2 separate regions of the Homo sapiens genome follow, and region 1 is linked to region 2. A link means that fine-mapping ties the variant in region 2 to the expression of a gene that starts in the linked region. Tissue or cell type: whole blood. Region 2 holds a variant in brackets; the other region holds the start of a gene. All regions are shown on one strand. Distances are from middle to middle.

Region 1 (8,110 bases), 48 kb after region 2:
GTAAACCTAATACATACGATTGTCCCTCCTACTTCTTTGTCAGTCATCTTTGTAGGTTCCTCCTATCCAATTAAAAATGAGTTCCTCAGTGCTAGGTTCTGGGTCTCTTCTTGACTTGTTCTACATCTTCTTCCAAAAATGTGTTCTCTGAGTCAGCAGCATAGGTATCACGTCAGAACTTAGAAATACAAACTCTTGGTCTCCATTCCTAGGCCTACTGAAGAAAAAACTCTGGGAGTAGGGTCTAGAAATCTGTGTTAAGCCTTCCAGGCAATTCTATCTACTCTAAAGTTTGGGAATTATTGCCCTAGACAATTTGATCTATATAGTCTTTTGCCAGTGATTACTAATACATCTCTGCAGTCCATGTGTCTCTCCCAAGATCCAACTGCCAGCTTGACATGGATATATCATTGGTGCCTCCTATGCAACGTGTCTCCAACAGAGCCACTCATACACTATTCCCTTTTCTCCTAACCAGTTCTTCCTCTAGTAATCCCTTTTTCAAATGATATTTACCCTATTGCCCAAGCCAGTAACCCAGAAGCAGCTTTAACTCTTCCCACTTCCTTAATTCCCACCCCCAATTCAATAACCAAACCTCTTAAACATACCTCAAATCTATCCACCCTTTTCAATCCTTACTACTACCACCCTAGACCAACCTAGCATCATCTATTATCTGGCCCACTGCAAAAGCTTAATCAGTCTCCCACAATCACTCTTGTCATCCCTTTAAACCTTTTCATATCACTCACTTGCTTAAAATCCTTTTATCACTTCTCACAATCCAAAGGTTCAAGAATAAGATTCTTAACAAGGTCTCCAATTCTCTACATCAGGGGTCCCTAACCTTCAGGCCATGCAGCAGGAGGTGAGCAGTAGGCAAGCGAGGGAAGCTTCATTTGTATTTACAGCCACTCCCATCACTTGCATTACTACCTGAGCTCTGCCTCCTGTCACATCACTGGTGGAATTAGATTCTCATAGGAATGCGAATCCTATGTGAACTGTGCATGTGTGTGATCTACGTTGTGTGCTCCTCATGAGAATCTAATGCCTGATGATCTGTCACAGTATACCCCATCATCCCCAGATGAAACCGTCTAGCTGCAGGAAAGCAAGCTCAAGGTTCCCACTGATTCTACATTATGGTGAGTTGTCCAATTATTTTATTATATATTACCATGTAGTAATAAGAGAAATAAAGTGCACAATAAATGTAATGCACTTGAATCATCCTGAAACCATGTCTTCAATGAAACTGGTCCCTGGTGCCAAAAAGGTTGTGGACCATTGCTCTACATGATTAATAATACATATAAAGCAGTTACAACAGTACCTGACACATAGTTGACACTCATTAAATGTTACCTAGTATCTTAGGCCATTCTCACTCTCTCTGTTATAGCTATCTGACTTATTTCAAGTCCTCCAATATACTCTTTCTTACCTTAGCACTTCAGTAGAAAGTGTGCCACCCCCACCTCCATCTTAAGTCACCTCTCAAGTTTCAGTTTTTCCTGCACATTCCCTCAACAAAACTAGAAGTTTCACTGTTACATAGCCCAAAAACATTCTGTACTTATTTGTAATATTAATCACACTGTTAATTATGTAAATAATCTTTCTTTCTCATTAGAATGTAAGTTCCATGAAGGCAGGCAGTGGATTGGTCTTGCCTACTGTTGTAACCCCTGTCTGGCAGAGTTCCTGGAAAACAGCAAATAACTGTAAATGTTGGCCAAGTAAATACTTGTTATCTACTTCCAATTTCATAAAACTTTCTCTTCCCTTGAGTTCTGTTATACTCAACTTTTCTGTTTTTCCTCTTCTATCTCTGACTACTCTTTCTTTGGCTTATCTTCTTTGTTGCTTTTGGTATTGTCCAAGTATTTGTCCTTGGCTATCTTCTTAGTTCTGCTAGCAGTTTCTTCTTGGTAATCTTATACACATCAGGTTTTCAACTATCATCTCTGGGTAGATGATTTAATATGTTTTACCCCAACTTCAATCTCTTTTTTTTTTTTTTTTTTTTTGAGACATGGTCTTGCTCTGTCACCCAGGTTGGAGTGCACTGAGATCATGGCTCACTGCAGCCTCGAACTCCTGGGCTCAAGTGATCCTCCTGCCTCAGCCTCCCAAGCAGCTAGGACTACAGGCATGCACCACCGTAACCATGCCCAGGTAATTTTGTTGTTTTTTAAGTAGAGCCAGGGTCTTGCTATGTTGCTCTTATCTGGTCTCAAACAATCCTCCTGTTGTGGCTTCCCAAAGTGCTGGGATTACAAGTGCGAGCCAAATCTCTTAAATTTGAATCCCATGTTTCCAAATGCTTAGTGTATGTGTCTATGTGATTCCTTAATGGCATCTCAAATTCAGTTACAACTAAAATTGAGATTCTGATTATCTTCCCGAAAAGTTCCTTGTCCTGCTCTTACTTTCAATAAATGACACAACTTTCTTTTAGTCAGGTTTGAGACCAAAGTCTTTCCTTCACTGAGTCTTTCCCTACTCCTTATATTCAAATAATCAGAATTCCTGTGGATTCTGACGGCAATATTTTTCACACTTGTCCTACTTTTCACTTCCACTGCTACTACTGAAATTCAGGTTTTATTAGCTTACTTGAACTATGGCAATAACCTCGTTATTTTCCTTGACTTCAACATTGTTGCCATATGAATTTTCCTGAAACCCAGTTTTCTTCTTTTTCATTAAAATAAAAAAAAAAATTCTTGCTGAGAAGTTAGGGCTTTCTACCACCTTCGAAATAAAGACCAAATTTCTTGGCCTAGCATTTAAGAAGATTCAGTAACTGGCACAAAAATTATCATTCATCATCCCCAGATCTGCCTTATAGCTAGCTGACCCTGCCACTCTTATTTTTTTTGTCCAGGAAGCTCTTTACCTATTTTTATATATCTACATCCTATCAAGACCCTATTCAAATACTTCTCATGAAGATTTGACTGACAGCTGCTGTGCCCCTCTCCATTCCAAACCCTATTAATAGTCTCTCCATTCAAGGATATCTCATAGTGCTTTTTCATGGTATTGCAACTTTCTCCCTTGAAGCATTTTTTTTTTTTTTTGGCACAAGTGTTATGTCCCCTACAAAACTCTGAGTACTTTAAGGGCAGAGTCTATATTTATCTTTTTGCCTATCTCTTTGCCACTTTGCAAAGTACAACAAAATAATGGCTATAGAATTACTGGAATTAAGTGATCAAAGTATAGTGGTCTTATCTCTCCTTCTACACAATTGTAGCCATTTCCAAGGTCCCTTCAGCAAAAATCACAAAAGTAACTCACCCCTGCCCCCACAAAAAAAACTCCAAACATCAAAAAAGCAAAAGCAAAGCAATCACCTCTTTCACGACTGGGGACTTGTAGTACAATGTTCCTATCTGTAAAATTCTCACAATCTTTCGCCTGTCTTGCTTAATTCATTAATCCCACTGGTCTGTAAACTTGATGACAGCAGGAACTTGTTTTGTTCACTGTTATTTCCCTAGTGCTTGAAACTTAATAAGGGCTCAAAAATATTTATCGAATGAACGAACTAGGTTTTTTGCGTAAATGTCACCTTATAAGGCTTCTGTGATCTCTCCAGTCTAAATTGGGCATTCATATATAAATATAAGTATGTGCTTTCTCCTAGATCCATTTTTCACCCTACCTGGCAATCTCAAAAGAAGTCCAAAGTTGATCATATGCACGTGCCCCAGATGAAGGAAACAGAAACTGTTCACATAGAGTGCAGTATTATCGTTGCCATTTCATAATGGCTCTAAAAAACTTTGTTCTTCATGACTTCGCAAGCTCTTGCAACCCCTTCCAATAAACATTATTTTAAAGATGCTGCCTTTTTCATTCCTCCACTGAGTTCTTGGTTCTGGATAACACTGATACCTTAGGGACACCTGGAATCGCAGGAGAAAAGGCTCCGATTCCAAACCAATCAAGTGGCTGAAAGCTGACAGCAAACACTTAGAAAAGGAATGTCAATCCTTTGATCAAAGCATCACACATCGAAGTCCTAGAATGGGGGATGGTCCTTGACAGGGGAGCCAAAAGATGAGAGACAATGAGGGAGCTACGTAGAGAAGTCACTAAAACCCTCCGACAAAGTCCGAGGCAGGATTCCAAGTCCCTTGTCCCTAGACCTAGAAATATGCTCGGTCCGCATGTCCCGGCCCGCAACTCCCTCGGAGGAAGCACAGTCCTCACTGAAAGGGGAGAGCAGTCAGTCTAGGGCACGCAACCGCCCGTAAATTATGATTCCCCTTGAGGAGCGAGGAAACTAATACCCCACGTAGCTACTCTCCCACCTCGCTCCTGGCGCGGGGGTCTCGAGCCTCCAGGAGGCCAGGAGCAGAGTCGCTCAGCATAACTCACCGTTCCGCCCCGCCCTGCCGATCCGTCTGTTCCCGGTGGTCCCTTCGGAAACGGTTCCCGCACTGGCCGGCTCCGAAAGCAGGAAAACAAAGGTTCCCACAGTAGGGGCGGGGGAAACGTTTGGCAGTGCGACAGTAGGAAGTGACGTTACTTCCCTTTTTCCGGTCCGCCGGATTATGAATGACGGCCGGCGCGAGTATTTTCCACATAAGGTGGCTGTCGTTTTTCTCCTGGCGTCTGTGGAGGCGAGTGGTCTGCGGGCAGCAGCTCCCAGAGGCAGCCTTGGAATTCCAGCTCGGACTGGGCGGGAAGGCGCAGGCGGCCCAGGTCGCCGACACGCTCACGCACCCTCCCTGCCTGGCCGCGCCTCTGCGACCAGGTAAAGAGGGCGCTCGGGCCGCCGGCTTCTCAGCCTCCGCGACCCCCTAAGAACTGGTCTTTTCTTCGGGGGTCTGCAGGGCTGAGGATGCGGGGGAAGGGTGGGAAGGACAAGGGCGTGGTATCATCGTCCTGATTTTTCTCCCGCCCTGGGGCCGCCTCAAACTCCTTTTTGGCCACTCCTGCTGAAGGTGCGGGTTGAGGGCTCTGGGCTTCTCGGTAGTACGCGTTTCCCAGTTTCCCCCTAGCCAGTCCCTCATGTCTTCCTCTGCTGATGGAGAAATGGGGCAGCTTCCAGTTGGAGGCGTTGGTTGGGGTGGTTTGATATTTGCTGTTAAGTGTTACTTCAAGACCTCTTGGGTCACACTAACTTCTCTTCTCTCTTTGGCATTGAGTTTTCCATTCCAGCCCTTCCTGATTGCAGAAAGCAGTTCTATGTGAATACTACTTAACATTTACTCCAAAGGACTTGCTTCATTTGGGGCCATTTGCTTATGTTTTGTCATCACAGCAGTATCTCTTGGGTTTTTAACTTCTATAGAAAGTTTAATTTGCATGAAAGTTGCTTTGGTTTCAAAAACGTTTGCTAATACACGTACTTCCCATCCCAACTTTCTACCTGGTTTTGGGATGAGATGACTTGTTTTTTTCCCCTTTATTCTTAATGCCAGGATCCCATTCCTTGTCATAAATTCTTGAATATCAAGAAAATGCCAGCTTTAGTAATATATTGTGTGCTACATTATTGATAAAGAAGGTGGTGTATTTCTATTTTACCTAAGCTTATCTGTAAAAACAATGTTTACAGGAGAAAATGCAAAAGCTAGCAAGAACTAGTGATGTGATAATTTTAAACATGTAAACATAGTCATTTAAATCCATGATAATAAACTGTTATAACACAACTAAGTGATTCGCTGTCATATTTAATAAACATTAAGCTATGCGGGTTTTTTTTTCTTTTTTTTTAACTGCCTGATGGGGAGCATACACCACTGAGAGGATTGCTTTAAGCACACTCATTACTAAAAATTGTGTTTGTATTACACCTGAAAGTATCGTTTTGTGAGGTCTCACTTCAAAAATAAGACTGAAAAGGTCAATGAGATTTGAGAATCATCATTTCTTTTTATTTTATATACTTTGCACTTCTACGTGTTTTTGCTTTAATTTAAACACAGCTCAAACTTGAGCTTCTGTAGTAGTGGGCCCATCAATTTTTTTTTTTTTTTTTTTTTTTGAGCTGGAGTCCTGCTCTGTCGCCTGGGGATGGATTGCAATGGCAACATCCGCCTCCCGGGCTCAAGCAATTCTCCTGCCTCAGCCTCCCGAGTAGTTGGGATTACAGGCGCCCACAATCACACTCGGCTCCTTTTTTTTTTTTTTTTTTTTCAGTCGAGGAGGGGTTTCACCATGTTGGCCAGGCTGGTCTCAAACTCCTGACCTCAAATGATCCGCCCGCCTCGGCTTCCCAAAGTGGTGGGATTACAGGCGTGAGCCACCGCGCCCGGCCTGTTTTTGTTTTTTTAAACTTGTTTTACTTGTAGCTTTTGTTTCATCATCTGTGATTTTTAAATAAAAATAAATACTGAGTATCCAATTAGCTTTTCTAACAAAGAATAAATACTTGGAATGCAGATATTGAAACCATTTAGATTAAAACAAGCACAGGTATTGTTTGCTGTGAAAATTCAGTAATTTTATTTCATACTTGGTAACATGTTAGCCATTTGCGCTGTCGATCACTGTTAATTATGAGGTCGGGTTTAGCTGAAGGCATTATGACTCCATGGCAACAGATGATTCCCTGATTCTCCAGAGAGATTACACACTTCGTTTGTGGCTAAGGTTACTGTAAGCTTTTCACTTAAAAACTTTTCCTACTTCTTTACCAGATAAGAAAACAGCTAATTTTAATCACTGGCTTTTGTTCTCTAGGACTTAACTGCATCCCATATTACGTATTTAATGAGCTTGAAAAAATCTCAGTGTTTTTCTTATCGTTTTTGACCCTAAATATTTAAGGTAATTGGCTGCTATCTATCTGTTGAGGGGCATGTTTTTTTGTTTTGTTTTGTTTTGGTTAAATCTATATTATTGTAATAAAATAGGGTACAATTTTCAGCCAAATACTGTTGTTTTATGAAAAGCATAAAACACAAGATAAGTTATAAAATTCAAAATGTTGAACATATGATGTAGGAGAGAATTTAGGCAGGTTTAAATTTTAATCTTTAAGAAAAGTAAGTGTTTGTGATTTTTCATACTTATAAACTGTGTTGAACTTCTTATTTTGTACAATAGGTTGATATGCACATGGATTAAGGGTTTCACGTTTATATTTTACCATTTCATGATTCCCTGGCTTTCAGCCTCAGTAACAAATATGTTTTTTTTCAGTATTTGGTTGGGAAAAACTTTTCAATCAATATAAATCCTTTACCTTTCATGGAAAGAAGCTTGAAAATATAAACCATAATTTGGGTTTTGCCCATCAAGGTTTGCATATTTTAATAGTGCCAGTTGATAAGGAATTTGGTTATAAATTATAAAGAAATAATAGTAGCTAGTATTTATTTAAGGACTTAATATGTGACAAGCTTTTTTCTGTATGGCACACTACATGGTAGGTACAGTTATTATTGTCTCCATTTTATTATATAAGTGAGGAAACAGATATGCAGAAAAGTTTTTTATAGCTACTAAGAATCAGAACCAGTATATTTGCACCCAGGTGGTCTGGCTCAACAGTCTCGGCTCTAATCTATTACTTTATAATTCTTGTTTTATAAATATTCTTGCTAGGCACATGTATGGAATCTAGTTAAGATTCTTAGTTCCTTTGCCCTGGATATAAGTATACATAAAAACTTCTGTGCTTGCTTTATTTATGAGTTTGGTTAGATTCCATTTATACTTTTCCCGATTCACCTCACAAAGGTGATCTTATTTCTTCATTTTAATTTATACTTAGTTGGTCCTTAAAATAGAGTTATTAATTTGGAAAAGAAAGAATGGTGTCATGAAGAATGAGATACACATTGTACCAAGACTAAAGTTATTAATAATACTCTCAGACAGTGATTTCTGACATTCATATATGTACATTCATTCCTTGAACTAAAGTTTCAGTTCATTAAGCACTGGAGATGTTATAGTGTTAGGTGATAAGAGCTATGAAGAAAAAGGGAAGCTAGGTAAGAGGCTAGGGTGTGCTTTTTCAATTCAGGCAGTCAGGAGAGGCTGTTCTGAGTTAATATTTATGCAGAAAAATCAATGAAATGAGGGAGCAAGCCCTGTGAATCTCTTGGAGAAAAGCATTCTAGGCAAA
Region 2 (8,110 bases):
ATTAGTAGATTTAAATGGGATTTTTTTAAATCATTTAATATTTTTAAAGTGGATTAGTGAGGATTTTACTATGATGGAAATTTAAGAGGACCACAGATTGTGTTTCTAGGGGTAGCCAGTGTCAGTGCAGCTTTTAAAATTAATATTTAGTTTAAGTCTGCATGTGAAATATTAAGAAATTATTAAGTTAGAAAGCTTTGCTTTTCTTTTTCTTTTTTCTTTTTTCTGGGACAGGATCTGGCTCTGTTGCCCAGGCTGGAGTGCAGTGGAACAATCTCAGCTCACTGAAACCTCTGCCTCTTGGGCTTAAGCAATCCTCGCTCCTCAGCCTCTCGAGTAGCTGGAACTAAAGGGGCACACCACCACACCTAGAAGATTTTTTGCATTTTTTGTAGAGGCGGGGTTTCACCATGTTGCCCAGGCTGGTCTCAAACTCCTGGGGTCAAGTGAGCTATGCTTTTCTTAAACAAGTCTCTGGAAATGCCTTGAGTCCTTACAGAAAGAGCAAAGGTACTCACTGAGGATATGACACTTATTAACATGCTATATACTGGAAGGCAAAGACTTCCTATTGAGAAAGACTTTTATTTAAGAGTCATATGTTATTTATTTTGTTCCACGGTAAAACATTTATTTTGTAAGAGTTCTATAAAATATATCTTGGGAATCATAAAAACATGCTTGAGCCAATAACACATTTTAGTAGTAAGTTACTCTGGGTAATATTAATTTTAATTTAGTGCCTTGTGTTTCTATAGGTATTATTATTTCATAGTAGTATTTCAAGAATTATAGAGAAGATAGACTGATCATCTTGAAAGTGGCATTTTCGTGTTGGCATTATAGGCATTTTGGGTAAGACAAATCTTCATGGAGTGGCCTTTTGGTGGAGGATGTTCAGCATTTTTGGCCCACCAGGCTCAAAATCTCAGTAACATCCCCTCACATCAAGACGTTGTGACAACCAGTGAAGAGCCTCACATAATTCCAAACCCTAGGAAGTCATACAGCCCCCGATCTAGTAGAAAAACCAGGCAGGAGCATTTTGCTTTTCTGGCACTGGGGAATGGAAAGTCAGGCTTACATCTGAGCTAATATGATAGAGAAACAGGTCAACGACAGATGAATGGATGGATGGATAGGTACAGGCAGATAGATGATGGTGATGATGAGATAGATAGATGATAGATAGATAGATAGATAGATGATAGATAGATAGATAGATAGATAGTTTTTACAGTATATGTTTAATGGAAAAGGTGTGGCTAGTTCTTTATGTATTTTCTGCATTTAATTATAGAGAGCACACATTCTAGAAGTCTTTAAAGGTTTGCTCTTTAGCTTAGTTCCAATACATTAAGTTAATATATATTTATTGAGTACCACCTGAAAGTGTGATATGTAGCTTCTCCCTCAGCAAGCATGCTCCAGACTTTGATGGAAAGAAGCCAGAAGTGTCCTGCATACCTTGCATAAAACCACAAGATGATTAATTAGGCTAAGTTAAAAAAATTGTGAGAAGGCTCAATATAAAAGTAACTTTTATGGATAACATATATAGAACTCTTTTTAAAAATCAAATATTAAGAACTCAAAATCTGTCTAAAGGCAGAGCAGTTATTCTTATCTAACCATGAGTAATACATATCTACACTTTTTTAGGACAAAATAATAAAGTCTAATTCTTATTTGTTCTAACAACAATTCCTAAGTAAAGGTGAATCATTTTGTGTCTGTGAGTCACTGGATATATATATATATATAATACTGTAATTAGATTACCTGTAGAATCCAGTCAAGTCACAAACATAGTAATTTATCCCAGATACAGTAAATAGATTCTTTGTTTATCAAGGGACTCATTAAACAGTCTCTAGGTGTATATTGACTATCTCATAAGCTAGACATCAAATTTAATTTGTGTTGGCTATTGCTGGTGCCAATAAGAGATTGGTTTCCCTCTCCCCTAGATTTCCCATGAGTTCAGACCAACTTACCAGGGGCCATTTAAGTTAATTAATACAAGCTGCTGCTCAGATACTGATTCCCTAGGATAGCTTTCGGGTTACAAAAGAGAAACCTACTTCCAAATTATCATAAAATATCATATAAGCATATATGATAAAGGGTAAAGTAGGGCAGTCAGCAAATGTAAAACAGAAGAGAAATAGAAGAAATTAAATCTAGGATGATCAGGTTATGTCATGAAGTTGGGCAGTTCTATGAAGTTCATTTTCAATGACTCAGGCCAAAAAGTGTAAACAATTTAAGACACAGAAACAGCATCAGCTTAATCCTTTAATGTATTTAAAACAGAATGTGTAGGCCAAGGTGAGAGGATTGCTTGAGCCTAAGTGCTCAAGACCATCTTGGGCAATAGAGTGAGACCGTATCTCTACCAAAAATTTTAAAAATTAGCCAAGCGTGGTGATACATTCCTGTAGTCCTAGCTATTCGGGAGGCTGAGGTGGGAGGATGGCTTGAGCAGAGGCTGCAGTGAGCTGAGAAAGTGCCACTGCACTCCAGCCTGGGCGACAGAGTGAGACCCTGTCTCAAAATTAATTAATTAATTAAAAATAAAACAAGTTACAACTCTGTGGTCATTTCTGTTTCAAGATTAAAATACCTTTATTAAGGGGTTACTATCTGTATAGGGGATATAATTCCACTATCAAACATAAGCCTCCAGGGTAGCCAGGGATTTGGGGCTGATATGGGAAGAATAGGGTACAGTCTCCTATGGGATGAACTATATTCCTTTTGCTGCCAGCAGAAGGTGGGAGCGATATGGTGAATCTTTTACACAGTCTTGGTAGTCAAAGGCTAGAGATTCCCCCCTACCCTCAAGTGCTGGCTCTGGGATGAGAAAGGAGGGGAATGAGAAAGTGTTGAAGGAGATGACAATGACAAAACCAAAGACTGTAGAGAAAAAAGTGGAGTTATATTTTGGGTGAGCAGGCTTTAACTTTTGTATTCCTCTTCCTGCTCACTTTTTAGGTTCAATGTTACAACCTAGAGCTCCTGTTTTAAGTCTTTGAATAGGTTTAGCCAGACACAAAATGATCAGATCCTCTTTTAATCTGGGTAGGTGCTTTCCTGTTTTCTTTTGTGCTTCTCGTGGGGGAAAAGGTAAACCTATGGATAGCAGAACTGGACAAGGTATGGGCTGATCCTCTCTCTGAAATGGGCTCATTTTTTCTTTTGGCAGGCATCTCACTTACAGAGACTCATCCTGACCCCCTTGTCAGCCCTGCTGTCCTTATTCCCAGGGCCTCACAAGCTCATCCAGAAACGCTATGACAAACTGCTGGATTGCAACAGCTACCTGCAGCGATCAAC[G/A]GGAGAGGAGTCAGACTTGGCCAAAAAGGAGTATGAGGCCCTCAACGCCCAGCTTGTGGAGGAGCTCCAGGCATTCAACCAGGCTGCTCGGAAGATTCTGTTGAACTGTCTATGCAGCTTCATTACCCTCCTTAGGGACCTGATGCTCGTGGCACAGCAGGCTTACTCCACACTTGTGCCGGTAAGCACAGCACCAACACCTAGCTAGCTACCTTGGCCTACTGGATCTGCTAGAAACCACACCCATACGAAAGCCCTGTTCAGAGTGTGCACATGTATGCCGTGTGGTGTGTGTGTATTTATTTTAACTAAATCCAGTCAGATAGTCTCCTGTTCCTTATCTGTCTTATCCATGGGAAACTCAAAGAGGGTTTCCTAGTTCAGGTTTACTGTGACTTACACATTTGTAATTCTTTTTTGGAGATGCCTTTTCAAATACCAAACACCTTTCAGCCTTGCTCCACCTGCCTGATGCAACATTGAAGCTTATCAACAATTTATATTTTGTATTTTTTTCTGATCAATAGTTCTTAGATGTTAACTGTGACTATTTAAGATGTGGCTCTAAAAAGAAGGCCATCTCAGCATAATGAAAGATGCAGGATAACATTCAAACCATGCTTTGTTTTGATTTCATTTTTCCCCAAGAAAGAGAAGCCTGGTTTTGTGTGTGTGTGTGTGTGTGTGTGTGTGTGTGTGTGTGTAGCTTCGCCTCCCATTAGGATATAATTTTATAATTATTTTCCTGATGAGGAAGAAAGATATTTACAACTTATATCAACTTTTGAAAAATTAGCTTGGTTTCTTGGCCCTACGTTTCAACTACACTAGTTCTCATCTGAATGAGATGGACAGCTATTCAATGGGTAACACCTGGAGCAGAAATAATTGTCCCTACTTTATTTTCTATTGTGCATTAATTAACTTTTAACTTATACTTTGAATTAAATTAAATTGAATAAACGAGGGCTATGTTTACAGGGTTCAAAAGCCAAAACTGTGTAAATGTATAATCAGTCTCACACTCATACCTGTTCCTCTAGCATCCCATTCGCCACTCTCATCCCCATTTTTGTTAGTTTATTTTTATGCATTTAGTGCTTTCTCATGCCAGTAACAATAAATGCAAGTATATATTTTTATTTCTTAAAAGTAAAAAACAGCATATTATATATACCATTCTGCACTTGCTCTTTAACAATATATTCTGAGAATGCATCTATAATAGTACATAAAGAGCTTCCTCATTCTTTTTTTTTTTTTTGGTGGGGGGGGATGGAGTTTCACTTTTGTTGCCCAGGTTGGAGTGCAAAGGCCCAATCTCGGCTCACTGCAACCTCCACCTTCCGGGTTCAAGCGATTTTCCTGCCTCAGCCTCCTAAGTAGCTGGGATTACAGGCATGTGCCATCAAGCCCAGCTAATTTTTGTGTTTTTAGTAGAGACGGGGTTTCTCCATTTTGGTCAGGCTGGTCTCGAACTTCTGACCTCAGGTGATCCACTCGCCTCGGCCTTCCAAAGTGCTGGGATTATAGGCATGAGCCACTGCGCCCAGCCTGAGCTTCCTAATTCTTTTTACAGCTTTATAGTAACTTACTGCATGGCTGTATAATAATGTATAACCATTCCCTTTTTTTAAAATAACTTTATTGTGATATAATTTGTATACCATACATTCCACCTATTTAAAGTATACAATTTGATTATTTTTAGTATATTCACAAGAGTTGTGCAGCCATTGCCACAACCAATTTTAGAACATTGTCGTGGCCCCCTAAAGGAACCCTGTACCCATCCACATTTTTTCCTAACCTCCCCAGCTCTAGGCAACTATCAATTTACTTTCTGCCTGTACAGATTTTCCTATTCTGGGCATTTTGTATAAATGAAATCATACAGTACATGGTTATTTGTGACTGGCTTCTTCTATTTAGCATAACATTTCAGGGTTTCTTCATGCCTAGCATGTTTCATTATTTCATTCATTTTATCGCCAAATAACATTCCATTGTATGAATATACCACACTTTACTTATTCATTCGTCAGTTGACGGGCATTTGGGTTATTTCCATTTTTTGGCTGTTATTAGTAATGCTTCTGTAAACATTCAAGTTTTTAGTGGATATATGTTCCCATTTCTGTTGATTATATACCTAGGAGTGGAATTTCTGGATCATATGTTAACTCTATGTTTAACCTTTTGAAAAACAACCAGACTGTTTTCCAAAGTGGCTGCACTATTTTATCTTCTCAGCAGTATCGACTGAGAGTTTCAATTTCTCCACACCTCTTTATTATTATTATTATTATTATTATTATTATTATTATTATTATTGTTATAGCTATCCTAATGGGTGTGCAGTGGTATCTCATTGTGGTTTTTATTTGTATTTCCCTGATCAGCACTGTTTTAAAACTCATTAAATTGAAGTAATAACTTCTATACATTAAACTGCACCAGTCTGAACTGCACATCTCAATCAATATTTGCATATACACATCTGTGTAACTACCACCCAGATCAAGATATAATCCCTTTCCAGTTCCCCATAAAGATCACTCATGACCATTCCCAGGCACCTAAAGGTAACCATTTTTCTAACCTGTATTACCATACATTGTTTGACCTGTTTTGTACTTCATATAAATGGAATCATACAATATGTATTCTTTTGTGTATTAACCTGTCCCTATTGATGAGTATTTGATCTATTTCCAACGTTTTTTTATTACAAATAATGCCGGGGTCATGATACGTGGACAGATGTATCTGTAGGACAGATTTATAGAAATGATAGAAGTGGGATCTCTGTGTCAAAGGGTAAAGACGTATGTAATTTTGCTGGATATTGCCAGATTCCCTGCTTAACTATGTACCATTTTGGATTCCCACTTGTAACATGTAAGAAAGCTGGTTTCTCTGGATTTTTGCCAATCTAATAGGTTTCAAGTGTAATTTTAATTTGCATTTCTTTAAGTATTAGTGAGATTGAGAGTCTTCACATATGAGGGCTATTTATCTTCCTGTGAGTTAGTTGTTCATGTGTTTTACTCCTTTTTCTTTGGGTTCTTGGTATTTTTCTCCTTAATTTCTAGCAGCAATGTATATGCTAGGGAGATGAGCCTTTTGTTGAGATAAAAATTGAGACTACTTTTTCCAAGTTAACCTTTGTCTTTGACTTCACTTGTGATTTTTTTTCATGCTAATGTTTGTGTTTTTAAAAAATGCAGTCAGATTTATTAATTTCATTTTATGACTTCTAGATTTTGAATCTTATAAAGGACTTCCATATTTTAAGGCTCCAAATAAATTCAGCAGTGTTTCTTCTAGTATATTTAGGGTTTCATATTTTTTTATTTAAATAATCAATCCATGTAGATTTTATCCTGGTTCATGTTGTAAAATATGGATTTAATTTTATCTTTTTCCAAATGACTTTCCAGTTGCTCCAACACTATTTATTTAAAAATAATCTCTTGTTACTGCTTTCTCAATGAAACACATTTAATTTGCAAATTATTTCGATAATTTCATTCTGAGGTCATGGTAGAAGGTGGGTTCATAAGTTCAGAACAAAGTTGAGCTTTGGCAGGAATTTACTAGTCAGAAAAGACATGTTATTTTAGGTATCTTTGATCCCCACTTTGAATCATGTGATTTTTAAAGGCATTTTCAGTTTCTATTTTAAATTATCTGAGTATCTTTCACATTGCAGTCCATAGCCAAACAAGAGCATAGAGATGCTTTGTTTTTGAGAAATTTCTAGTGTCTTAAAGTAAAAGGCATTTTGGAGAAGTTATCCTCATTAAAATGATTTTATTCTTTATTTTATATGTTCTGTATATTTAAACTTTTTATTTTGTGATACTTAGAGATTCATATGCAGTGGTAAGAAGTATTACGGAGATCCTGTACAACCCTCACACAGCTTACCCAATGGTAACACATCTTGCATAACTACATGTATTTCTGAAAGGCAGAATTGAATAGTGATTAGAGAACACTAGAGTACCTTGTTTTAATACCTGCTCACTGCTATACTACATTGTGTAAATTAATGTATCCTTCTGTTTAAATTTTCTCATATGAATTAAAATGAGAATAATAATGTAAATAATTTTTAAATTTTTAATTGTATAAAAAACCACAATTTACCATTATAAGAATTTTTAAGTGTACATTTCAGTAGTGTTAAGTATACTTATATTGTTGTGTAATAGCTCTCCAAAACATTTTCATCTTGCAAAACTGAAACTATACTCATTAAACAAGTCCCCATACTCCCCTCCCCCAAGTCCCTGCAACCATCATTCTATTTTCTGTTTCTACAAATTTGACTACTTTAAATACCTCATGTAAATGGAATCATACAGTGTTTGTCTCTGTGACTGCCTTATTTTGCTTAATATAATGTCCTCAAGATTCATTCGTGTTGTAGCATGTGATAGGATTTCTTTCATTTTTAACTGTGAATATTTCATTATATATAAAAAACACATTTTGGGCTGGATGTGGTGGCTCACGCCTGTAATCCCAGCACTTTGGGAGGCTGAGGCAGGCGGATCACTTGAGGCCGAGAGTTCAAGACCAGCCTAGCCAACATGGCGAAACCTTGTCTCTACTAAAAATACAAAAACTTGCCAGGTGTGGTGGCACATGCCTGTAATCCCAGCTACTCGGGAGGCTGAGGCTGGAGGATCACCTGAATCTGGGAGGCGGAGGTTGCAGTGAGCTGAGATTGCACTATTGCACTCCAGCCTGGGTAACAAGA

The links. PIP is the estimated chance that this variant, and not a neighbour inherited with it, causes the effect.
Region 1: INTS12 starts here. The variant in region 2 is fine-mapped to the expression of INTS12 in whole blood (TOPMed, PIP 0.91).

Annotation. Positions count from the first base shown.
Region 1 is chr4:105,704,237-105,712,346 of GRCh38, forward strand. It overlaps INTS12 (integrator complex subunit 12), which reads right to left and starts at 4,453. Exons shown (of 8, transcript NM_020395.4): 1 at 4,402-4,453. It overlaps GSTCD (glutathione S-transferase C-terminal domain containing), which reads left to right and starts at 4,548. Exons shown (of 12, transcript NM_001370181.1): 1 at 4,548-4,780. It overlaps LOC124900748 (a long non-coding RNA gene), which reads left to right. Exons shown (of 3, transcript XR_007058215.1): 2 at 1,078-1,154; 3 at 1,643-1,738. It overlaps LOC124900747 (a long non-coding RNA gene), which reads left to right and starts at 2,146. Exons shown (of 2, transcript XR_007058214.1): 1 at 2,146-2,187; 2 at 3,665-3,860. RefSeq lists an enhancer at 4,528-4,777.
Region 2 is chr4:105,655,846-105,663,955 of GRCh38, forward strand. ARHGEF38 (Rho guanine nucleotide exchange factor 38) reads left to right here. Exons shown (of 14, transcript NM_001242729.2): 10 at 3,209-3,520. Among named protein-coding and RNA genes, the nearest start is that of INTS12, 49 kb to the right of the region's middle. The variant G/A (reference allele first, on the strand shown) is at 3,340.